7 linked regions of the Homo sapiens genome follow. The protein of the gene in region 1 interacts with the protein of each later gene in a biochemical or structural test. Each region holds a gene or a part of one and is shown on either strand. Other genes may lie near its edges. The genes, in order: DAB1, MAPK14, CRKL, MYO6, RELN, APLP1 and ITSN1.

Region 1 (3,500 bases):
TTCTAACAAATTCCCAGATGCTACTGCTGCTGCTTGTCCAAGGACCATCCTTTGAGAACCACTGCCTTACCTATCAGTGTGGACGAGCTCCTTCCTGAAGTCAGATGTGTGAGAGGAAAGATCAATACGTACAGAGAGAGAATTCAAATATTCAACTGATTCCACTGGAAATAGGAAGAGGAATCCTAAGATTTGACTTCAATATAAGCAGATTCCTGAGGTTTCTTTGGGATACATTCATGGCAGCCAGGCACTTAAGATGTCTCTTTTTCTGTGGTCTCTGTGTAGCTCCAACCCCAGCCCCTAGACAGAGCTCTCCATCCAAATCATCTGCATCCCATGCCAGTGATCCTACCACAGATGACATCTTTGAAGAGGGCTTTGAAAGTCCCAGCAAAAGCGAAGAGCAAGAAGCTGTAAGTGACCAGTTTGTTATTTGTTTGTGTTTTTCCTTAAAATTAAGACCTCTGTAACTGAAATGGATAATGCATGAGGAAGCCTACATAGAAAAGAATGCTGGCTCAATCTCATAAGTTCTCAAGGGGTTGCTAAAGGGGCTTTCTTTTGTGTTCAAATGAGTCAGCTGAAAAGGACTGCCTTTTTATTAAATTGTTACTACAAGTCCACATTTGTGGTGTAGCATCCTCTAAATGCCGTTGCACCCTCCTTTACAATAACTGATTGTGCTGCATGAAAGTATATCCAGGTGTCTTATATTTTCAATGCTTGAAAAGAGAGAAAAAAAAAAGTATTATCTTCTTGTGTTCTAGCCTGATGGATCACAGGCCTCATCCAACAGTGATCCATTTGGTGAGCCCAGTGGGGAGCCCAGTGGTGATAATATAAGTCCACAGGCCGGTAGCTAGATAGCGCAGGTCTGGGTAGGTATCTGTCCTTTTTATCTCCTTTACCCTTAAGCTATCTGCTTTCCCTTTTGGTTGTTCTTCACTTCTGAAGCCACATCCTCAATGTTTGCACCATGTCTCCTTGCCTGAGCTGTATTGCTGATGTTTGCACCATCGCTCCTTCCCTGAACTGTATTCCTGATGTTTGCACTATTTCTTCTTGCCTGAGCTATATCACCAGTGTCTGCACCATGTCCCTTTGCCTGGTGTCTACGTTCTACTTTGCCTTTTCTCATGGATGCATGACCTTTGACATATCCTGGGAGGTAGGGGTAGGGGTGAGAAGTGGGAACTGATCATATTATTTTATTAATAATATGTTCTGCGTGGTTGGTGGTGATAGAATGAGGCATGGTCCATGCTACTTAGCATGCATTTAGTTTCTGGAAGCATCAACATTTTGAGATGGACACATTCTGCCCACCCTGATAATTTCTCAGTGAGCCATGGTCCAGATGCTTTAATCTTTTAAGCAAAATGTCACTGCATTTGCCTACAGTCTGCAGATCTAAAGAGGTCACCAATCAAACACACAGAGAAGCCAGACTAAGAAGCAAAAACAAGCAGTGCTTGAAATAAGATTGATCGAGATGTAAGATCAGAGGAAGCCCTTTTCGTCTAGCCAGAAAGGACCCTGCACCCTGCATCCTTTCTGATGTGAAATTCAAAGCCCAGAGATGTGTAGCACTCACTTCTGAGGCTGTGCTGTTTGCACCTGTGCTGCAGCATGTGGATTGCCACCAAATCACTTCAGATTCCATCAGCAGCTACTTTGAGAGAGATGTACTTACATTTACTAGAAGTGGCTTTTGGCACTTGAATTTCAATACATCTGATTTGATCGAAAGAAAGAGGAGCTGATGAAGCAAACCTTCTTAGGAGACAGAAGTACACCTTGTTACCCAGACATGATTTCTAAGGTCACTTCTTGACAAACGTGTTCAATTTTCAGATACCTTCTTAGTTTTCTATAAACACACAGGACTGCAAGGCCATTCCCAAAAGGCTCCTTTTTTAAGTTCTGAACAGCATGGTCAAAACCATTAAAATGGTAAACAGTTTTCTCCACTCATAAATGGATTCGGAGGCTACCTCATAAATGGATTCTGAGGCTACCTCAGAATTAGTCTTAGCCCACACGTAAGTTAGACAGTTACTGAAAGCTAATATGGTATTTTGAAAGTGTATTTTGTTAACAGGTATTTTTATTAAAGAACCTAACACACTGTGTAGGTTGCCACATTTTGTATCAGTGCAATAGCACATAATAATATGTCATGCCATGCAAAACCACCTACGATTCACTTAGAAGTTCACTCTTGCAAAGCTACTTCGGGAGTTGATATATTGAAAGCAAAGTCAATGTTTCAGGAAAAAGAAAAGTTGGGGACTATAGGCAGACTCCTTGGGATGATTCCCCACGAGGTATTTTACCCCCCGCCTAAGTTGTATTTCACGTGCTCAACCTTGCCTTGAAAAATTTGGTGAATAAACTAGAGGTGACAAGAGCCATTCATCAGGATAACAGCAAACATCATCCTAAAATTGAAGTTCTTCTAGAAAACAAAGATGACTTACACCATTTGCAGATCAATGTATTAAACCCTCATCTTTATGAACCTGTTCAGCTTGAGACAATCCTACAAGCCAAACTGTTTCATGGGGCTTTGGTCTGTTCCACATTTAATGCTCTGTCCAGTACCCCAAGCCACAGCTGAGCTGTAAATGGACATAGCATAGTAGTGTGGGAAGAACTCAGGATTTGGACTTGAGTTTAAATCCTAACTCAGCTACTTAATAGTGGGAAATCTTGGGCAAGAACCAAAATTTGAGTCTTGGTTTCTTCATCTGCTAGAAGGGGCTTATATTCTCCATAATGGTAACTGAGATAGTTTATGTTGAGTATCTAGCGCAGAGACAGACACTGAGTAATCAGCTTAAAATTCAGCTTAAAAAAAATATCTAGGTTCTGGAACAACATTGTTTGAGTTCAGCATCTGGCTCCACCACTTCCTGGCTATGTGACACTGCTGTGATTTTATAATTATTCTCTATCTTATTTTCTTCATTTGAAAAATAAGGATAAAAATAGTGTCCACCTCATAGGGTTATTATGTGAACTAAATAAAGTGATATATGTGAAGCTCTTAGCACTGTGTATAGCACATAGAAAGCACCTAATAGATGCTAGCTACCCTCATCATCACCATCACCATCATCATTATCATCATCATTATCATCATCACATATATCCAATTAATGCACGCTCCCCACTCTCTTGGATTTTATACATTTAGCTTTCATGTATAAGACCATTGGTTGGGAGGTTTTGCTTTGTACTTTGTCTTCAGATAATTAATTTTCAATATGTGTCACAACAGCTTTGGAAGGGAAAAAAAGAAAAAAGCCTGCTGCTTAGCTCTCTGGCTTGCCCCACCCCATAATCAGAATGGCCCTGGTTTGGGCCTCACACAGCTCACTGCCAAAAAATGGGCTGTCTTAGAATCACATGCAAGTCAAAATAAGTACCTCCCAGCTCCAGAGGAGGGCTGGACTGTAATCTTCGGTGAAGTAATTTTCTCCCTTTGAAAGCTT
Region 2 (3,929 bases), on another chromosome or scaffold:
GAGCCCCACAATCCACCCTGGGACACCTGCTGGGTGTCATTCCAAGGACACCAAGAAAGGAAGCACATCAGCAAAGTCCCTGAGAACTCAGCTGTGAGACCCCGTGGCTCTTTCATCCCGTGATGCAATTCAGTCATTCTGAAGAATATTTTCAAGGACCGTAGCCAGCTAAGACAAAACAGAGTCATAAAATACATTCGCCTAAAAGCTTACAAACAATGTACACCTATATATACAAACCAAACCTTCTCTCTGGCAGTTTTATAATAAAAATATATGGCTTATAGATAGTCTCAAATGTCAAAGATGAAAAAAACCTGAACTTCACTTTATAGATGAGAAAACTGTAGCCCTGGGCCAAGGGTCAGCAGACTTCTCTAAAGGGCCAGATGGTAAATGGTTGACATTTTGGAGGTCCTATAGTCTCTGCTGCAACTATTTGCCTCTGTCACTGTAGCACAAAAGCAGCCACAGACAATACATAAACAGATGAGTGCGGCTCTGTTCTCATAAAACTTTATTTATGGATACTGGAATTTAAGTTTTACATTACTTACATCACATGCTACAAAATCTACTACTTCTTTTTTTTTCTTTCCCAACCATTTAAAAATGTAAAAGCCATTCTTAGCAGGCTACACCAAACAGGTGGTGGGCCAGATTTGGCCCTCAGGCCACAGTCTGCTGAGCCCTGTCATTTCGGCCACTCTTACACTCGAGTGTAGATAAGACAGGCCCCAATGCTTAATACTTCGTTCATTTGCTCTTTGCTTTACCCATCCACAGCAAAGACCTGGATACTCTTCACCAAAAAATGTACAACTAAGAAGCTTTATCAACATTTTCTAAATGTTAGGAGTAGTATTAAGATCTGTCAGACAAGTATGCCAGGTCACAGTTTAAAGGATATTGATATAATGCCATATTGTGCATTAAATAAAAACAAGAGAAAAATATAATAAACTTGAGAAACTCACTAAATTTGAAAAATAGGCTTTATTTTAACCAGTGGTATTGTCTGACATCCTATACGGCATAACTGATTACAGCCAAGTTCATGAATACAAATAAAATAGCAATTTCCCTCATTCTCTCTTTTGTTTTCTGTTCAGAGAAATCAGGAGATGGGAGCATTATGCTCAGAAACCGAAGAGCTCTTCCAAGAGCTCCAGCTTAGAGTCCAGGCTTCCAGAGCATGCAGCCTCCTAACACGTATGTGGTCACATGTGCAAAGACCTTTATTACAAAATATTCAGAGCAGTATTTCTGTAGGAAATCACACGAGCATTTACAACCAAACATGGCTGATAAAATTCATCTTGCTGTGGATGGTGAGGATTTGAACTGCAATAAAGGAGATGAGGCCTTTACTTTAAAGGTTCACTTTCCTTGAAAGGGGGAGAGTCCCGGGTGAGAGGGAATCGCCATCAGTCTGCCTCCTTCCTTCTTGCTCCAGTTGACTCAGGGGGTCCACCCTGTCCCTCTGGAGTACATGTATCACTGCACTGATTGAGAAATGGAAACACCTTGGCCCAAATACAAGATTCTGTCACACAGCCAACACTGGAAGTGACTTTATACTTTCTTATTACACAAAAGGCTTAAATATATGAGTCCTCATGTAGAACAAAATGCCTGAAATTCAGCAAGTTATGAAAACGACACTTCTCCACCCCTGAGGATATTTTATCTTTATAAAGTTGAAAATACAAAATATTAAAATAATTTGCCCTTTCTCCCCATCAAAAGGAATCACATTCTCAAAGGATTCCTACAATATACAAAATTCTGAAACAAAATTTATTTCTCCCCAAACCAAGAAGTCAATGTTAAGCTGCCAAGAAGACCCTTTTCCATAGGAGTGGAAAAGACACCTTGTTACTTTTTTATTTTAAAGTAATCATATTTAGAGAAAGACAGCAAAAGGAGTTTCTGGCCTTATGGGCTTTAATTTTTTACTTTGATTTTCAGCATTTCTTAGCATTAGTTATTGGGAGTGAAGAGAATAACTTGTTTCCGAAGTTTGGGATATTCCTGGGAAAAGCCCTGGTCTTTTCCCATGATAATTCCTCAAAAATAGTTGGTTGAAAACAGATGGCATGAATAAAAATGCTATACATCCACCTGTTCCTCTTTTCATGATTTTCACATCAAAAGCACCTGAAGTATCAATTGTGTTCAACACAGAATAGCACTAGGGGCTGAAGAGAGGTGATATCACTTGCCATAATATCAGCTGAGGTGACATGGGATCTAAACTACCCAAGAAGTCTTCACTGGCAAACCTGCCTGACACCAGGGCCTCCTGAAGAGAGCAGGACAAGCAGCTGTGCATGCTCAAATAGCAAGACGTGCAAAACACATCCTCACTCTGCTAGAAATAAAGAGTACACAGGAAGTACATGACATCAAGAACCTGCTTCTGACTACTGGGGCAGATATTCAAGAAACCTCTGCACCAAAGGTGAAGGGTAAGCAGAGAAATGGCAACACCTGGGGGTGAGGGAGAAAGAGAGACGCACATATACGCATGTGCTCACATGCACACATGACCGCCTATGAAGGCTGCCTGATTACTCCGGGCCCACAAGCAGCTGTCCAACAGCCCTCTCGACTTGCCCGGCTCAGAACTTCAGCAGCTGCAGTCTTTTAACTATCTACACTTTCTTCTCTCCTTTTAAGGCACAAACATATTTACAGTTTCAAATATACTGTCAAGATCTGAGAACCATACTAAGCAAGTTAATCACAGGCTAGTGCACAGAAGCCAGTTGGTCCTTTTTGGCTGTACGTATCACTGAGGGACGGTGTCAGGTCTGAAGCAACCAGAAGGTATGGGCCTTCTCTCCGTGCCACTGTGGGATGTTGTCAAGTCTACGCCCCACCGTCAAGGTGGGGTCACAGGAGAAGCCAAAGTGGCAAAAGCATGACCGGGATTGGGGACAATTCATATTTTTTTACTTTGCATTGAACATATTCCTAAAAGGACAGCAGCTCTTGTCTGCCTGAGCCAACTCTCAGAAAGAAGAGCAAGGTGGAGGCTGCCCTGGAGCATCCACAACCTCCTGTAAAGTCACTGTGATCATAGTTTGTTCATATTGTCTTACCCTCCCACAAAGACAGACACACACATGCACACACACTAACACGCACGCACACGCACGCACACCCCCTTCCACCATGGAGGAAATCTCTGCAACAAGAGGCACTTGAATAATATTTGGAGAGTTCCCGTGAAAAGGCCTTCCCCTCACAGTGAAGTGGGATCAACAGAACAGAAACCAGGTGCTCAGGACTCCATCTCTTCTTGGTCAAGGGGTGGTGGCACAAAGCTGATGACTTCATCATAGGTCAGGCCTAGAAATTGGGAAGGAAAAGTAAGATGTGAGAGTTTAGGCTATTCTCTTTGCTGGCAAGCACTCTGACTTCTAAGCTCAAGATCCTTCCTCTCTGTCCAGGTAGTGGTTTGATGGGCTACCTCACAGCTTGTATGTAATAGCCTACTGGAACACGTTATCACACAGAAGTTCAAGGGACATAGAAAAGAACCATTTTTTTTCTCATGTTTTTCATCGCTGAGTGCCTCTTCTTTTAAGCTCTCTACGGAGGTGCTCAAGAATGAAAGAGCACTCTCACAAGCTACAGCAACAGATGGTCTTGGCTCTTGGGATTTAACTAGAGTTCTGAACTTGTGTTTTGTGGAAAGAATATGGGACTGGACACAGGATACATGGGTTCCATTCCTGGCTATGTCCCTAACTAGTTCTAAGTTAACTGATAAGACATAAATTCTCTTTGCCCCAGTTCTACTAATTGTAAAACTGTAAAAGCTCAGAGAGATGTTGTAAATGCAATGACTCTGAAAACCTCAACTCTCCATGCAAAACTCCTATGTGAGGGGCTGTGCATAAAATCAGACCAGACATAAG
Region 3 (3,500 bases), on another chromosome or scaffold:
ATTGAGACCATCCTGGCTAACACGGTGAAACCCTGTCTCTCTACTAAAAATACAAAAAATTAGCCAGGTGTGGTGGCACACGCCTGTAGTCCCAGCCACTCGGGAGGCTGAGGCAGGAGAATGGTGTAAACCCGGGAGGCGGAGCTTGCAGTGAGCCAAGATCACGTCACTGCCTGAAACAGTTAAGACTCTATCTCAAAAAAAAAAAAAAAAAAAAAAAAAAAAAGCCAGGCGTGTGGTGGCTCACGCCTGTAATCCCAACACTGGGAGGCCGAGGCGGGAGGATCACTTGAGGTCAGGAGTTCAAGACCAACCTGGCCAACATGACAAAAAACCCTGTCACTACTAAAAATACAAAAGTTAGCCAGGTGTGGTGGCGTGCGCCTGTAGGCCCAGCTACTTGGGAGGCCGAGGGAAGAGAATTGCTTGAACCTGGGAGGCAGAGGTTGCAATGAGCTGAGATCACACCACTGCACTCCAGCCTGGGTGACAGAGCAAGACTCCATCTTAAAAACAAACAAAAAAAAGAAGATAGCCAAGCCCATTCATTTACGTATTGTCTATGACTGTTTTTCACTACAAAGGCATAGTTGAGTAGTTGGACAGAGACTCTATGGAAAAGCTGAAAATATTTAAAATCTGACCCTTTACTCAACAGTTTGCTGATCCCCCATCTAAATTCCTGGGTTAGGGAGGCAAAGTGTGCTTTTCAACTTCCTTGCTTCCCTGGTGAGGGGTATGTCTGTGTAGAAATTTGATAAAGATAGTTTCTATTTCCCTCCACTACTATACTGCTATAGTGACCTTGGGGCTCATTTTCTGTGTTAGTATCTGCAGAGATATTCATAAATTTGACACCAAATCAATCTCACCAGCCATAACCCTGACACAAATTCCAAGTCCTCTGCCCTATATTCTCAAACTCATTTATTCATCAAACTCCCCTGAAAATTACACATTAGTTCCACTGAAGAGATAAATACATGTTGCTCCATGTCAGATATCTTAGCCTTTCCATTAGACCCCACTGTCTAAAGAAATATGAAGCATATTCATCAGAAAATTTATTGCTTCCCAATTATTTGTTCTTTGAGCAAGGTTGAAAATAGCACCCTCCCCCAACTTCCCTTTAAAATATAAAGTGTTGCCCAGGCGCAGTGGCTCATGCCTGCAATCCTAGCACTTTGGAAGGCCGAGGCAGGTGGATCATGAGGTCAGGAGTTTGAGACCAACCTGGCCAACATGACAAAACCCTGTCACTATTAAAATACAAAAATTAGCCAGGTGTGGTGGCGTGTGCCTGTAGGCCCAGCTACTTGGGAGGCTGAGGCAAGAGAATTGCTTGAACCCGGGAGGCGGAGGTTGCAGTGAGCTGAGATCATGCCACTGCACTCCAGCCTGGGCGACAGACAGAGATTCCGTCTCAAAAAATTAAATAGATAAGGCAGGTGCAGTGGCTCACGCCTGTAATCCCAGCACTTTGGGAGGCCAAGGCGGGCGGATCAAGAGGTCAGGAGATCGAGACCATCCTGGCTAACACAGTGAAACCCCATCTCTACTAAAAATACAAAAAAATTAGCTGAGCGTGGTGGCAGGCGCCTGTAGTCCCAGCTACTCGGGAGGCTGAGGCAGGAGAATGGTGTGAACCCGGGAGGCAGAGCTTGCAGTGAGCCGAGATCGCGCCACTGCACTCCAGTCTGGGTAACAGAGTGAGACTCCGACTCAAAAATAAATAAATAAAATAAAATAAAATAAAATGCACAGGGTTTTCAAGCCCATCCAAACACCCTTGACCATGCTTCTCACTTTTTGCCTATTGTCCACTACACACTTTGAGCAGCAAAGCCCCTAACAACTAATTCGTAACTGACTTTTCTTTTCTGATGATAACGAATCTCTCAGCTCTTTTGGTTAAAAGCGTTCTCAGTTTCTACATGTATAAACCATACACAAAACATCTTTAAACCAAGTGCTAATATGTTCTAAGCTTAAAATCTCCTTATGCATGCTAAGAACCAATACAATCAACTTCTAGAAAAAGGAAGTTTCAAAGGTGCTGGTAATATTCCTTTTTTTTTTTTTTTTTTTTTTTTTGAGATGGGATCTCGTTCTGTTGCCCGAGCTAGAGTGCAGAGGCACAATCATGGCTCATTGCAGCCTCAACCTCCAAGGCTCAAGCGATCCTCCCACCTCAGCCTTCTGTGTAGCTGGGACTACAGGTGCATGCCACCACATCCGATTAATTTTTGTATTTTTGGTAGAAACAGGGTCTTGCCATGTTGTCTAAGCTGGTCTTGAACTCCTGAGCTCAAGCAATCTTCCCACCTCAGCCTCCCAAAGTCCTGGGATTACAGTCTGGGCCACCACGCCTGGCCAATGTTTTATTTATTTATTTTTTAAAGGGAGCACACAGATGATAGTTTTTTTTGGCTTGTTTTGTAAATTTTTTTGAGATAGCGTCTTGCTCTATGGCCCAGGCTGGAGTGCAGCAGTACGATCATGGCTCACTATAGCCTTGACCTCCCAGGCTCAAGTGATCCTCCCACCTCAGCCTCCCATGTAGCTGGGACTACAGGCATGAGCCACCATGCCCAGCCAATCCTTGTTTAATTTTTTGCAGAGATGGGGGTTTATGTTGCCCAGGCTGGTCTTGAACTCCTGGGCTCAAGCAATCCTCCTACCTCAGCCTCCCCACTATTTGGGACTACAGGTGCATGCCACCACACCCAGCTTACATATACTTTTTTTTTGAGACAGAGTCTCACTCTATTGCCCAGGCTGGAGTGTAGTGGTGTGATCTCAGCTCACCAAAACCTCTGCCTCCTGGGTTCAAGCTATTCTTGTGCCTAAGCCTCCCCAGTAGCTGGGATTACAGGGCCCCACTACTGCCGGGCTAATTTTGTATTTTTAACAGAGATGGGTTTCACATGCTGGCCAGGCTGGTCTTAAACTCCTGACCTCAAGTGATCTGCCTCCCTCGGCCTCCCAAAGTGCTGGGATTACAGACATGAGCCAACGTGCCCAGGCTTACTCTTTTTCCTTTTTTTTTTTTTTTTTTTTTTTTGAGACAGAGTCTTGCTCTGTTACCCAGACTGGAGTGCAATGGTGCGATCTCAACTCATTGCAACCTCCACCTCCCGGGTTCAAACAATTATCCTGCCTCAGCGTCCCAAGTAGCTGGGATTACAGGCATCTACCACCACGCCCGGCTAATTTTTGTCTTTTTAGTAGAGACAGGGTTTCACCACGTTGGCCAGGCTGGTCTCGAACTCCTGACCTCAAGTGATCCACCTGTCTTGGCTTCCCAATGTGCTGAGATTACAGGCGTGAGCCACGGCACCCTTACTCTTTTCTATGTATGAAATATTTCACAGTTAAAAAAAAAAAAAAAAAGGTAGAAAACTTAATTCCAGCTGGGCGTGGTGACTGGCTCATGCCTGTAATCCCAGCACATTAGGGGGCCGAGGCAATTGGATCACCTGAGGTCAGGAGTTTGAGAC
Region 4 (3,500 bases), on another chromosome or scaffold:
GCCTTGGCCTCCCAAAGTGCTGGGATTGCAGTTTCATAGAGTTTAATTATGATACCCATAATGAGATATTTCATAATAATTTGTGAACTGGCCCTTTACTAGTATAAGATTGTTGCACATTTATTAGGCATCTTCCATAATTGGACAGATCACAGATTGAGGGGCTTGATCTACAAAATAATTTTCTAGGCTAATGGTCTTGTCCTTTTACAGATGAGGGAGTCTAGTCTCAAAGAATTAAATGCTTGCTCCAGAAGGGCAAAGTCTGGATTCACACCTGAGTCATTTGACCACGAAGCCCCTGTTTTTTCCACCAGAACAGTTTGCCTTGGTTTCAGTTCACTTGGTGGACTGTTTAAACCGGCAAAACTGGTATTATGTCAAAGAATGTAATTCAAGGTTTGACAAAAGCATCCAGGAGTAGATATGATAGGCCGTGAATGTAGTTCTGGAACAAATTTAGAATCCTGTGTTTGTGTCTTCATTCTCAAGTTGACAGCCTTGAACACTGATGCTGCTGCTTTCTCATTTCTCGTATAGTTCTAGGACATTATATGTATTGTGCATGTATGTATGCTGTTAAACATATGTATGTGTTTAACTTTGATAGGTTTGTGAGAACTAGAATTAGATTGTAATGTTCCTGGTTGGGATAGAACTTTAAAATTTTCCTCTAATGAAAAAGATAATTATTTATGCAGTAGCTATCCTTTAAATATTACATAATTAATTCTCTAATCTTGAGAGGGGGGACTCGTTTTTAGATTATGATTAAATTGTCACTTAGAAACTATTAGTACAAATCTTTTCTATGGTCTGTGGAATATCCCTTGAGCCGCAATAGACATAAATGACAACAGTGAGCAAATAAGCCCATTTTTTCTGGTAACAAACTAGGAATCATGCATTTCAGCAGTAGGATGTAGTTGGGTAAATGAGCAGAAGCAAGGTAGGAAGGCTGAGTTGGGTGGCTACCATTACGGATTTTTTTCATTATTTGCTTTGAACTATTAGGAATTGTGCATCTCAAGGATATTCATATTCAACTGTAAATACAAAACCACCACCTAATATAAATTAGTAATATTACTAATATAAATTGGTAATAGATCTGTGACACACACATCAAGAAGTAGAGTTAAATAAGCTTAAGTTCTCTTTTGGAGGCATTATATCTATATGCATGTATCTATGATCTATATATGTGTGTGTGTGTGTATATATATATATATATATATATATGTTTTTTGGAGACAGAGTCTCATTCATGCCACATGCAGTGGCATGATCTCGGCTTACTGCAACCTCCATCTCCCAGGCTCAAGTGACACTCCCACCTCAGTCTCCGGAGTAGCTGGGACCACAGGTGTATGTCACCATGCCTGGCTAACTTTTTTGTGTTTCTGGTGGAGAGGGGTTTTGCCATGTTGCCCAGGCTGGTCTTGAACTCCTGAGCTCAGATAGTGTGCTGCCTCGGGCTCCCAAAGTACTGGGATTACAGGCATGAGCTACCGTGCCTTGCCGGCATTATATAATGTTCAGAGGAACCAGGATCTTTTCATTTAAAATGGTTCTGATTTTATTTGACAAATTTGAGTGGACTAGAATCTTTAAATATTTTGCAACGTCTTTCTAGTTACTGTTTTCAAAAATTAGCTTATTTTTCTTATTGATTAGTGTAAGAATGACATAATGGTTTGAGAAATGACCATAAGTCCACCAAAAGTTTTCCCTGTGAGTACTGAAGCATAAAAAGTAAAACCTAAAGAAGAAATCTGGCATCTTTAGAAATCTTGCTGGTGCTAAAGAGAGAGGAAATAATTTTTTATACAGAAGGCATGTCTCAAGTGAAACCAAAACACCAAAGCACATTCCTTCAGTGTATATTCACATGGGGTAAATATGATGCTGAGTAATGTGCACAAAGGAAACTCTTGACAAAAACACAGTCATCTTTTGAGTATGTTAGGTCATTTGTTATTTCATTTGAAAATAACCTGGCTGGGGCGTGGTGGCTCACACCTGTAATCACAGCATTTTGGGAGGCCAAGGTGGGTGGATCACCTGAGGTCAGGAGTTCAGACCAGCCTGGGCAATGTGGTGAAACCCCATCTCTACTAAAAATACAAAAATTAGCTGGGTGTGGTGGTGGGTGCCTGTAATCCCAGCTACTTGGGAGGCCAAGGCATGAGAATCACTTGAACCTGGCAGGTGGAAGTTGCAGTGCACTGAGATTGGGCCACTGCAGTCCAGCCTGGACGATTGAGTGAGACTCCGTCTCAAAAAAAAAAAAAAAAAAAAAAAAAAAGTAAGCCGCTGACTAACCTTTACAAGGTAATATATTTTCTGTGGCAGAATTTTTTGATTTCTGATCTATGTGGATGAACATCTTTTTCAACAGATATTTACTGAGGGCCCACTGTGTTTTAGATATGACAAGTGTGAACTGATTCCTCCCTGTGCTGGCATATCTTTGGATCCAGGAAATAGGAAGAGTTGCAGAGATATGAAAAAATAAATAGAAACCATCCATTTGAAATCCAAAGACATATACGTCAAAAGCTAATAACTTATATTTGGATGGCATTTTATTGCTTTAAAATATTTTTGTATGCATTTGGTCCTTAAAACAACTTGATGAAGTAGATTTAGTAAATTTATTCCTTTTCTACAGGTAAGGAAATGGAGACTCAAAAAATTAAAAATACTGGCTGCATGTGGTGGCTCATGCCGGTAATCCCAGCACTTTGGGAGGCTGAGGTTGGGAGGATCACTTTAGCCCAGGAGTTTGAGAACAGCCTGGGCAACATGGTGAAACCCTTTCACAAAAAATATTATACAAAAATTAGCTGGGTGTGGTGGTGCACGCCTATAGTGCTAGCTGTGTAGGAGGCTGAGGTTGGAGGATCTCCTGAGCCCAAGAGGTCAAGGCTGCAGTGAGCTGTGATTGCACCACTGCACTCCAGTCTGGGTGACAGAGCAAGATCCCGTCTCTAAATAAATAAATACATTACTTAAAATTAAGTAACTTGTTCAAGGTCAATGTGGCTACTTAGAAGCATCATCTCTGTGTAGTCCCAAAGTAGTAAGTCCTCCACTTTCCCCCTATTGCTTATGTATTTAACCTCACATTATGGCTTCAAGTCAGGTGGTTCAGGAAGTTCTGAAAAATTAGGGTCACTAAAATGGTGATTATTAAATTGTTACAGGTTATTTTTTAATGGAAGATAGAAGATGAGCATGATGCATCATTATGGAACTACTTTAACATTTTAAATAGATTGCTAGACTGAAATTGGTAATTAGCTTTTCTAGTTGGAGAATTTTTAAAGAACAATTAGTTAAAAAAAGGAAGGAGAAAAATGTTCTGGGGGAATTTTGAAAATAACTTTTATTACTTTGTGCATTGGTAGTGATCCGATAGTTACAACTGTCTTTGTAAAGACTCACTAAAGAACTGTGTGTGCGTCTGTGTTGGTTCCTTTATGTCTTCATTTATT
Region 5 (3,500 bases), on another chromosome or scaffold:
TTCTACCGTGTGCCACATCATTCAGTTTCACAGGCTGTGCCTGCAGACTAACAACATTTACTGGAATTTCCTAAAGAGAGGAATATACAATAGATGAACTTCAATAAATATCTTTAAAATGTCCCTCCCCACCTACATTTTTCAATTCTCTTATATTCAAATCCTATATAAGTTCTATTAGTGTGTGAGAGAACACGTTTCTTCATTACTTAAAATTTTTTGGCCAGGCGCGATGGCTCACACCTGTAATCCCAGCACTTTGGGAGGCCGAGGTGGGCTGATCACCTGAGGTCGGGAGTGCGAGACCAACCTGACCAACATGGAGAAACCCTGTCTCTACTAAAAATACAAAATTAGCTGGGTGTGGTGGCGCATGCCTATAATCCCAGCTACTCAGGAGGCTGAGGCAGGAGACTTGCTTGAATCAGGAGGCGGAGGTTTCGTTGACGGAAGATCATGCCATTGCACTCCAGCCTGGACAACAAGAGCGAAACTCTGTCTCCAAAAAAAAAAAAAAATTCTTAATAAAAATTATATTATCAAAATATTAAAAATAAATTTTAAAAAGGTTGTAAATCACTTTTTTTGTATTTTTATGTGTCATTATATTTTGAAGGCATGTTAACTCTTTCAGGCCAACAGTATACTAGGTGATTGCTTTGTGCTTTACCTGGGAGACAATGTCTGGTCAAAGAATTATGGACTTATGGGTACGAAATTCCAGCTTTGTTTAGCATAGATATCAGCTTTCTGGTTTGATTTTGCAATCTCTATTTTAAATAATAAAATTAGCTTTTACTTTTCTTTGTTTTCTCATTTTTGAGATTAGTTTTATTATTTATTATTATTTTCCTTTTCTGAAATAACCACCATTTTGAAAAATAAATGCGTACTATCTAAAAGGATGGATTCTGGAGAACTACACAGCAGCTTTGCCATCTTGGGCAAAACACTAACCTCTCTGTGACTCAGTTTATGCACGCATAAAATGAGAATAACAGTACCTTCCTCATGAGGATTTTGTGAAAATTACATGAATTAATATGTGTAAAGCATTTAGCTCAGTGCCTGGCACATATTAAGTGCTACTTTAGGGTTTGCTATTGTCACTGTCATAATTCATTCATTCAGGAGTCTTTGAGTTGCCTTTTTTTTCAGGTAATATTAGTGCTTGAAATTGGAGTGTAAATCCACTTTTTCTAAGAGCTTAGAACCAACCAATTTCCTCATATTCCTCCATCACACACACTGGACATATAACATTATTTGCAGGATGAGAATACAGGAAGTGTTTATTAAAGAAAAGGAAATGTGAAAAGAACTGGAACTATGATCATAACATATCTCAACATTCACAACAAAGGTGACCCAAACAAAGAGATTACATGTTCCTGAAGGTAAGACTCAGATGTCTGTTTCCTATGTCAATATGTAATAAGCAAAAGGAATGACAAACTTGGATATAGTCCTAGAGGCTGAGCCAGATGTGACAAACAAGGTTAAGGATGGGGCAGAGCTCACATTCACAACCATGTCACACGTCTAGATGTTTTAAATGTCAACAGGATTTACATATGGTGACACTGCATTTTAGAGAGATAGTGTCAGGAAATAAAGTTAGGTGAAGGAAACGAACAAGCAAAAATTATCAGTATATAAGAGGTCAGGCACAGGTTACCTTCTCAAAGCATAATTAGAAAAGCTAACATAAAATGCACTATCTTTGCCACCTGTAAAAGTAGCATACCTTAAGGGATATTTTGAAAATATATTGTCAAAAATTTCCTAGGAAACACCTCAGTTTTATCAAGGTTACCAAAACCAACTCTATGAGAGGATCAGAGCAATTCAGAGCTTGATACAGGAATTATGACTGACCTAAAAGCAAATGTTAACTGGGACATCTGTGTGTTTAGATGAAATACATATTAATTAGGATTGCATTCAGCTACAAGTAACAGAAACAACTTAATTTTTCTCACAATACAAGAAGTCCCGTCATTATTTCAGGGCTGGCATAGCTGCCTGAAGATATAAAGGAGGACCCAGCTCCCTCTAAAGTTTTGTTCCACCATCATTGGCATGTGGCCATTATCCTCAAGGTCACAAGATGGTTGTATCATCTCCGAGCTAGAATAGGCAAGGTTAGGGCAAAAAGTGCGTGCCTGCTGAGTCTTTTATAAAATATTCTTTATCAGTTTTATCAAGAGTCTTCCCAAAGACTCTGACTGGGTGCAGTGGCTCATGCCTGTTATCCTAGCATTTTGGGAGGCCAAGGCAGGTGGACCATCTGAGGTCAACAGTTCAAGACCAGCCTGGCCAACACGGCAAAACCCTGTCTCTAGTAAAAACACAAAAATTACCTGGTCTAGTGGTGTGCACCTGTAGTCCCAGCTATTCAGAAGGCTGCGGCACGAGAATCGCCTGAACCCAGGAGGTGGAGGTTACAGTGAGCCGAAAAGGTGTCACTGCACTCCAGCCTGGGCGACACTGAGACTCTGCCTCAATAATAATAATAAAAAGAACCTTCCCAAAGACCCTAATCAACAGATTTTCACTTCATATCGCTGAATTATACCGCCAATAAATGGCAGAGCAAGATATGAACACGGGTCTATCTTCAGCATCCAGTTAAAAAATACTCACCTCCATGGCTCCCTTGCAGCTCCATGTAATTCAGCGATATGAAGAAATTCTATGGGAGGACCACAGCAATTCAGAGCTTGATACAAGAATTATGACCGACCTAAATAGTTGATAATAAATGTACTGATTTGTTTTCATATTACTATCAGTAAGAAGAGAAAAAAGGTGTAGAGATGGCAATGGGGGAAACCTGAAGGGAAGAAAGTGAAAGAATTTAAAAAGAAAAAGAACAAAGTGGTGAAGCAGAAAGGAGAAAGGAAGAGGAGAGGGAAAGCAAGGACCATGGCATGGAGTCAAAGGAAGCAAAGGAGGAAAGACAAAGATAAAATTTAGAGAGAGGAAGAGAAGATGAGATACAGTGGGAAGGAGATGGGAAAGGCAGAGAGAGAGGACTAAGGTGACCTTAGTCCTTATGGTCTACTGTCACTCCTTTTCAGGTCACTTGGTTTGTGGGCACCAGTGGACATCAATAATCGGTGCTATCTATAACATGTCACCTTTCCTATCATGTAAGAGTATTTTAATCAATAATTTTCTTTTTAAACTGGGTCTCACTTCGTTGCTCAGGCTGGTCTTGAAATCCTGGGCTCAAGTGATCCTCCTGTCTCAGTCTCCAAAGTAGCTAGGATCACAAGCATATGCCACTGTGCCTAGCTATAATAAAATTTTATTTTGTTTTCAACATAAAGTTTTATTTTGTTAAGGAAAGCTAATTCAGCATTAAAGGATAACCTGCATTTTAAACATTTACTTTGAAAACTCAGAACGCTTGTAACTATTTCTTAGTGGGATTCAATGCTATCTAATTATCTTAGCTTTGTTTTTTATTTTGAGTGATTTAGGGCTGCCTTATA
Region 6 (3,500 bases), on another chromosome or scaffold:
GGGGTCAAAGACACAGCATGTGAGGGTCCATGTTTCAGGGTCAGGAAGCTGAGCTGAGAGACTGGGAAGGGGCAGAGAAGCGGTGTTCAGGGGATAGGAAGGGGTCCAAGAGACAGAAAGAGGGTCTAAGGGACAAGAGAAGAGCCTGAGGCGCGGGCGTCTGAGGAATAGCGGCGCATTTGGGAGCTGGAAGGATGTGAGCACCTGGAAGCGCATCTGCTGTGCCTTCTCGGGATCCACGGCGGCCACATGCTGGTAGTGGCGCAGCGTGTGCCTCTGTTCCTTCTGCTCCGCACGCAGGTAGCGCCGCAGGGCCAACAGGACACGCTCCGCCTGTGGAAGGGACACAGGATGCCCAAGCCCGCCCTGACCCTTCTCACCCTCTGCTCTCTGCCCCCACGGTCCCCGCACCTGAGGCGGATCTGCCTGCAGGGCTGCCAGGAAGCCCTCCAAGGCAGCCCGGCGCTGGTCGTTGATAAGGGCGATGACGCGGGTGGCGTGGGTTTCCACCAGGCGCTGTCGCTCACCAGACACCTGCTCCTCCAGAGTCTGCAGAATGGACTGGAAGTGCTGGGGAGCGGGTGGGCACAGGGTCAGGAGAGGAGAAGATGGGTCAAAGCCTGGTCAAAGAGAGCCTGGAAAGGCAGGGCTACATGGGGTTGGGGGGCGTTCCAGGGGTCCAGGCCTGGGCAGAACCAAAGGTTATGGACTGGAAGGGGTGGGCTACAGGGCCAGGCAGAGTGGAGGTGGGACTAGGCCCACTGGGAGCCAATGTGAGGATGTAAACTGTAAGATTGAGTGGGAGCAATCTGGGAGCAGAACTGACCAATGTTAAGGTGAAAGGGACAAAGCCTTGCAGGGCTCCTGGCCTGGGCAGGGTCAAACTGGAGACAGGCTGTGTATAAATGACACGATAGGGGTGGGACAAAGAGCTGGAATGGGGGCTAACATGAGTGGGGTCTCCATGGGGTAGGTCAGGTTAATAAAGGTGAGATTGGCCCAGCAGAGCCAGAATCAGGGGGCGGGGCCTGATAGAGACATAAATGCATCAAAGAGAGACCAAGAAGGCCCTGGCTGCATCTGCAGAGGCCCTGGCTTGGGACAGGACTCCAGAGCCAGCCCTGAGAGGCAAGTCAAGTCTGTAGATGGGGCCGAATATGGCCAATCTGGGGAGGAGAGCAGTGTCAGGTCAGATGACGGCTAAGAGGGGCAGAGCTGCATGTAGGCATGGGGCCAGGAAAGGCTGAGATAGGTGGGAAGGGGTGGAACTGGATGGGCAGGGCACAGCCAGAGCCAGGTGAAACTGAGTGTGCTCCAGGTGGTGGACAGGCATGAGTAGGACCCACTGGGGCTGTCCTACCTCATTCAGGGCCTGTCTGTCGGCTTTAGGCAGGTTCTTGGACTGGTTGTCTGCCATGGCCCATTCACGCATCACCTGCATAGGGAGGGGAGCTTCAGGATCCCAGAATCCACCCTGATCCACCTGGCAAGTCCCCCAACCCCTCTTTAAGATTTTAGAAGCCCCATGGCTGGGCGCAGTGGCTCATGCCTGTAATCCCAGCACTTTGGGAGGCCGAGGTGGGTGGATCACAAGGTCAGGAGATTGAGGCCATCCTGGCTAACATGGTGAAACCCTGTCTCTACTGAAAACAGAAAAAATTATCTGGGCGCTGTGGTGGGTACCAGTAGTCCCAGCTACTCGGGAGGCTGAGGCAGGAGAATGGCGTGAACCCAGGAGGTGGAGCTTGCAGTGAGTGGGAGATCACGTCACTGCACTCTAGCCTGGGCAACAGAGCGAAACTCTGTCTCAAAAAAAAAAAAAAAAAAAGATTTAAAGGCCCCAGATCCCTTAAGTCTCGCTGGCTCCTGGGTTCCCAAGAGGGAAGATCCAGAAGGAGTTTAAAGTGAAAGAGAGGCCAGGCGTGGTGGCTCATGCCTGTAATCCCAGCACTTTGGGAGGCCGAGGCGGGTGGATCTCCTCCCGCCGGGAGTTCAAGACCATCCTGGCCAACATGGTGAAACCCTGTCTCTACTAAAAATACAAAAATTAGCCGGGCGTGGTGGTGGGTGCCTGTAATCCCAGCTACTCAGGAGACTGAGGAAGGGGAATCGCTGGAGCCCGGGAGGCAGAGGTTGCAGTGGGCCGAGATCGCACCATTGCACTCCAGCCTGGGTGTTAAGAGCGAAACTCCGTCACAACAACAACAACAAAAGAAAAAAAAAAAAACCAATAAAGTGAAAGAGTACCATAGACCAGAGTTTCCAGAGAACCTGGTAGCGTCTCAGTGGGATTCTAGAAGGGCCATGGATCTCTGGCCATCTTAGGGGGTGGTGTTGAGAGCTCAAGGTCAAAGGGGCTTAGGGAGCCTTTGGAGGTAGTATCAATGTGTCCTGGAGGAATTTCCTGGTATTTAGGGAGCTCTGTACTGTAGGGGGTCCTGGGGCCCCCAGTATTATCACCTCATTAATCTGGCGCATCCTACGCTCCTCCAGGTCCATCTTGGCCCTCAGGAACCCCTCGTGCTCACTGATTTCCCCAGGCATGCCAAAGTAAATATCCACACCGTCTGTGGGCCTCGGGGTGGGAGTGACTGCAAGACCAGGGATCAGGAGGTCAGTCTGCAGCCCACCTCCAGGTCGCCTTTTCTACCTAGAGAACCACATTTCCTAGAGTGCACTGGAGACCATCATGCACCCAGTTTAGCCACCGCTGCTGCCTGGCATTATGGGAGATGTAGTTCTGGACTGGGCCTGTTCTTGCAAAGCTTAGGAATCCATTACACCATCTTCCAAGCTTTCCTGAAATGATCCTCAAGACCTACCCAATGGCCCCTCTACTCCCAAGTACCCCCAAACCACCCCCTCCCTTGGCAGGTTAGCCCTTCTACTTCTATTTTATCCAAAGATACTCTCGTCTTTTCTCCTCAGTTGGGCCTTTCCCCTATAGGCCCCTCCCAAAGACACCCCCCAGCAAGACTCCCCCAGATCTTTCTCCCTCTATGGTGGAGAGGCCCCAGGGGTTCAGAGACTGCCTCACCTTTGCCGACCACTGCAAGTGTATGGGAGCTTGGGGGTGGGACCGTTTCCTCTTCCTCTTCAGCCTGCGGAGGCTCCACGAAGTAATCATCTACTGGCTGTGGGAAGGATTCCTCCTCTTCCTCGTCCTCAGCCCCCTCTACTCTGCTCCCCGGGGGCCAGGACCGGGTGGAGGGGTCACTGAGGGAGCAGGAGAGGACCCAGGCAGTAAGAACCCAGGCCTGGGCTCCCAGGCTTCCATCCCCTGCCTCAGGAACCTTGAGATGGGCATGGAGGGTTCCCTCCCACTCACCCAACTGCTGTCCCAGATGGGTCGGGGGTCCCTGGAGGGGGACAGCACACATACTCCACACCACGGAACCGATCCGAGCCACAGGGTAAGAGCATGCCCGAGCCGTGCAGGATGAGGCCCTGGGAGCTGCAGGCCTGTAGGAAGAGTGGGCCCAGATGCCAGGATTGTGGGA
Region 7 (3,500 bases), on another chromosome or scaffold:
CACTTGAGGAAAAAGAGTCACATATTGCTTTCTCATGCTACATTAATTCCAATAATAGGACACTATGAGTGGGTGACCTGGGACCTAAAACGATTGTTTGTCATTGTGCATACCATACGCTACCTACATGAACAATGATGTCCAACATTAACACGCAAATAAAGTCAATGAAGAAAAGACAGGACAGAAAACAAAAAGAGATCGGAATGGTGACCCACACTACCCCATTTACACATTGAATACTTTTCTTTCTACCATGGTAGCATATCTTTCATAAATACACTAAACAAACGGTGTTGGTTATAGAAATAGGAAAGCATGAGTTGCATGTCTATTTATAGATTTAATTTAAAAGTTTCTTAACAACATCAAAAAATATAAACTTAAAGTATTTTAACCATGTTTTCTGCTGGGAAATGGTAAACAAATGCATGCCTGAAGTTAAACTTGGTCTCTAACATGTTCAGTTGAAAGTTTCTAACTACAGGGTATATTTGCTTGTTTCAAAAAATACTTATGTCTGTTGTTCTTGATACAAAATTCTACACTATCTTCAATAAATAAATAATAAAGTATTTCTTAAAAGTATGAAATGTAAACTTTGTTGTCCTTTCCAACACACACTTTTAAAAAAATTGCTTGAAGTATGACCGGGCTCTCATGGGAAATGATAACACTACACATTCAGTTCCCAGCAAAGGAGGTACTCTGCCACAACGCTGATGCTATCATTTAGAAAGCACTTTGATAACCCTAATTAAAGTCTAAGGACCTACAATCAAAGAGAACACCATCTAGTACAGGAAAGCTAGACTCCAGTACCAACAGAACATGCAAAGGACATTTCATGACCACAACAAACTAGGATTATGAGAATATTAACATGCAAACAAAACACGGCCCCCACTTTTCATTAGCAAATCAAGTTACTATCTAACTAACCAGATGATCTCCTGGCATTTAAGGGAAAAAAAAATTAAAGAACTCAAACCAAACAGCTTGGCACATAGTCATAAAGTCCTGACTCTTGCAACAAGCATATTATGTGAGGTTGGGGTGGTGGAGGGTGGAAAAGTGTCTTAGGTCTTTGCCCCGGGATGTGCGGGGCTTGCATCCTCCTAGGGTCTTTCACCCACCACATAATGGACTGCCTTCATTTTCTTTCCCAACCTCCAGCTTGATATTTTTCCTTTTCACGCCTTGGGGATCTAGGACATGGCTTTTTGGGGAACGTACCAAAAAGAGCTGTTGAAATGTCCTACAACAATCAGGATTCAGCACATTCAAGCACAGAACAGGTCACCAGCAACGACTGCTGCTATGAAATATCACAGGCCTCCGAGCCAAAAGAGATTTTTCCAACATGGCTGCCAACCGAGACCCAGTGACCCAACATTGTAAAGTTGCCTTTCCAGTGACCTGTAGTGATCTGATCCAGCAGAGGGGTGACTTTCTAGATAATGACTTTCTGTGACCATATTCTAAGCATGCTGGGAATCAGAACTGAATCCACGCAACAATACACCAGTGTGTTTTCATTGACATATATTAATACAAGGCCTAGAGGGGGAAGGAACGGCTATAACGGTGCACATGCTGGAAACTTCCATAGACCAGCTCTTCAAAGAGCTAAGCCAGGGCCTGATCAGACCGTCTCACCGAGTGATCAGCTCTAGGCAGCATTTCCCTGCAGGAGAGATGGGATTCTGAAGCAATGACAGGACCGTCATAATTGTTTCTAAACTCACACCAAGGACTGGGCATTGTAGGCCAAGAAGTCTACTTGGGGACTGGTGGATGTAAGAAACAGGAGGGTTACATGAGTTCTCCAAAAATATAGACATTGCATTTATAAATCTATTTTATAGTAACCAGACCCATCCCTCAAGCCCGGGAAGGGGCTAGACTCCCAGCTGCACCCTGTTGAGGGCTATGGGATTTCAGCGACCCTAGAAGCCATAATGAGACCTGTAGTGAGGACAAAGGAAAACACAGCTTTGTTTCATGAAACAGGAAATTGTTTCGGGGCAGGGAGGATTGTCGAGAATGATTCCTAGGAGCTTTGAGGGGCCTGTCTTTGCCATCCCATATCCCTGTGACTGAATACCAAATGGTGGTTTCTTAGAAAAGGAATACAATTTCCAGACAGCATGTGTGGCCGTGGGCTGGGACCCTGCTGAGCACACCCTGAGCCCGCTGCCTACGGCTCATCAAACAACTGCAGGTCCAAGCGGACCACAATCTCTCCCGTGGGGACTTCGTGCAGCAGAAGACACTTCGTAACTGGACCTTTGGAGCCCTGGTCTTTCTTGATGTCCGCCACACGGATCTCCGTCCGACCCAAAAAATCTGAAAAGAGAACAAACAGACCCTCCTAAGAGGGACCATTCCCTCTCTTCGAGGCACATGTCTGGCATATTGGGGACCCCCTGATGAACTGTTATGCTCTCCCTTCTTCTCTGGGCTCTGATGTAAACCAACACTAGGATTTCCAACTCGCTCCCCAGCGGAGTTGCCAATGTGTCATGGTATTTCATTACTTAAATAAAAAAAAAAACCCAACCCCAACCTTTATCTCTCAGAATTAGAAGGTGGCCGGGCACAGTGGCTCGCGTCTGTAATCCCAGCACTTTGGGAGGCCGAGGCAGGAGGATCACTTGAGTCCAGGAGTTTGACACCAGCCTGGGCAATAGAGTGAGACCCTGTCTCTACAAAAAATTTTTAAAAATTAGCCTAGCATGGTGGTTCATGCCTGTCATCCCTGCTACTTAGGAGGCTGAGGCAGGAGGATTGCTTGAGCCTGGGAGGTGGAGGCTGCAGTGAGCTGTGATTGCACCACTGTGCTCCAGCCTGAGTGACAGAGCGAGAACAACAAGAAAAAAGATAAATAAATAAAAAAAATAAAAAGAAAAAAGAATTAGAAGTTGACAGTACACATAGTAGTTAAGAGCCCAGACTTGGGAGCCAAACTGTTCCAGTCACACTCAAACATTTAACCAGCTACCACAACGAGTACCTAACTCACAATGAGATAATTCATATAAAAAGTACTAAAAGATGAAGGCCATATGGAGCCATTTAAACCTTGTACAGATAATGCTAGCATTTGACCCTCACTTCTTCGGTTATAATTAAGTTGAGACCATAATCTTTTAACTTACTCTGTGATTTTTTTTTTTTTGGAGACAGGATCTTGCTCTGTTGCCCAGGCTGGAATATAGTGGTACCATCATGGCTCACTGCAGCCTCGACCTCCCAGGCTCAAGCAATCCTCCTGCCTCAGCCTCCCGAGTAGCTGGAACTACAGGTGCATGCCACCATGCCTGGCTAAGTTTTGTATTTTTTTGTAGAGACAAGGTCCCACTATGTTGCCCAGGCTGGTCTTAGACTCCTGGGCTTAAGCGATCCTCCTGCCTCAGCCTCCCAAAGTGTTGGGATTCCAGGCCTGCAGCACCATGCCCACCGGTGATTTTTATTGGGTTGAGGGAGAGACAGGTAGT

Evidence for each region.
Region 2: the proteins of DAB1 (region 1) and MAPK14 form a complex in vitro, tested with the Homo sapiens proteins (one study listed by BioGRID).
Region 3: the proteins of DAB1 (region 1) and CRKL form a complex in vitro, tested with the Homo sapiens proteins (one study listed by BioGRID).
Region 4: the proteins of DAB1 (region 1) and MYO6 form a complex in vitro, tested with the Homo sapiens proteins (one study listed by BioGRID).
Region 5: of the proteins of DAB1 (region 1) and RELN, one has a biochemical effect on the other in vitro, tested with the Homo sapiens proteins (one study listed by BioGRID).
Region 6: the proteins of DAB1 (region 1) and APLP1 form a complex in vitro, tested with the Homo sapiens proteins (one study listed by BioGRID).
Region 7: the proteins of DAB1 (region 1) and ITSN1 form a complex in vitro, tested with the Homo sapiens proteins (one study listed by BioGRID).

What each region holds. Positions count from the first base shown.
Region 1 is NC_000001.11:57,008,061-57,011,560, reverse strand, and holds part of DAB1 (disabled homolog 1), read left to right. Parts: exon of another isoform or gene 1-288; coding exon 289-416; exon of another isoform or gene 417-770; coding exon 771-866; 3' UTR 867-881; exon of another isoform or gene 882-3,500. UniProt on the Homo sapiens protein: Signaling adapter of the reelin-mediated signaling pathway, which regulates the migration and differentiation of postmitotic neurons during brain development.
Region 2 is NC_000006.12:36,107,808-36,111,736, reverse strand, and holds the end of MAPK14 (mitogen-activated protein kinase 14), read right to left. Parts: intron 3,358-3,929; coding exon 3,290-3,357; 3' UTR 501-3,289; downstream 1-500. UniProt on the Homo sapiens protein: Serine/threonine kinase which acts as an essential component of the MAP kinase signal transduction pathway.
Region 3 is NC_000022.11:20,927,407-20,930,906, reverse strand, and holds part of CRKL (crk-like protein), read right to left. Parts: intron 1-3,500. UniProt on the Homo sapiens protein: May mediate the transduction of intracellular signals.
Region 4 is NC_000006.12:75,752,239-75,755,738, forward strand, and holds part of MYO6 (unconventional myosin-VI), read left to right. Parts: intron 1-3,500. UniProt on the Homo sapiens protein: Myosins are actin-based motor molecules with ATPase activity. Unconventional myosins serve in intracellular movements. Myosin 6 is a reverse-direction motor protein that moves towards the minus-end of actin filaments.
Region 5 is NC_000007.14:103,979,659-103,983,158, forward strand, and holds part of RELN (reelin isoform a precursor), read right to left. Parts: intron 1-3,500. UniProt on the Homo sapiens protein: Extracellular matrix serine protease secreted by pioneer neurons that plays a role in layering of neurons in the cerebral cortex and cerebellum by coordinating cell positioning during neurodevelopment.
Region 6 is NC_000019.10:35,871,574-35,875,073, reverse strand, and holds part of APLP1 (amyloid beta precursor like protein 1 isoform 1 precursor), read right to left. Parts: intron 3,463-3,500; coding exon 3,329-3,462; intron 3,217-3,328; coding exon 3,038-3,216; intron 2,592-3,037; coding exon 2,461-2,591; intron 1,436-2,460; coding exon 1,361-1,435; intron 571-1,360; coding exon 412-570; intron 334-411; coding exon 205-333; intron 1-204. UniProt on the Homo sapiens protein: May play a role in postsynaptic function. The C-terminal gamma-secretase processed fragment, ALID1, activates transcription activation through APBB1 (Fe65) binding. Couples to JIP signal transduction through C-terminal binding.
Region 7 is NC_000021.9:33,887,001-33,890,500, reverse strand, and holds part of ITSN1 (intersectin-1), read right to left. Parts: intron 2,350-3,500; coding exon 2,201-2,349; 3' UTR 1-2,200. UniProt on the Homo sapiens protein: Adapter protein that provides a link between the endocytic membrane traffic and the actin assembly machinery. Acts as a guanine nucleotide exchange factor (GEF) for CDC42, and thereby stimulates actin nucleation mediated by WASL and the ARP2/3 complex.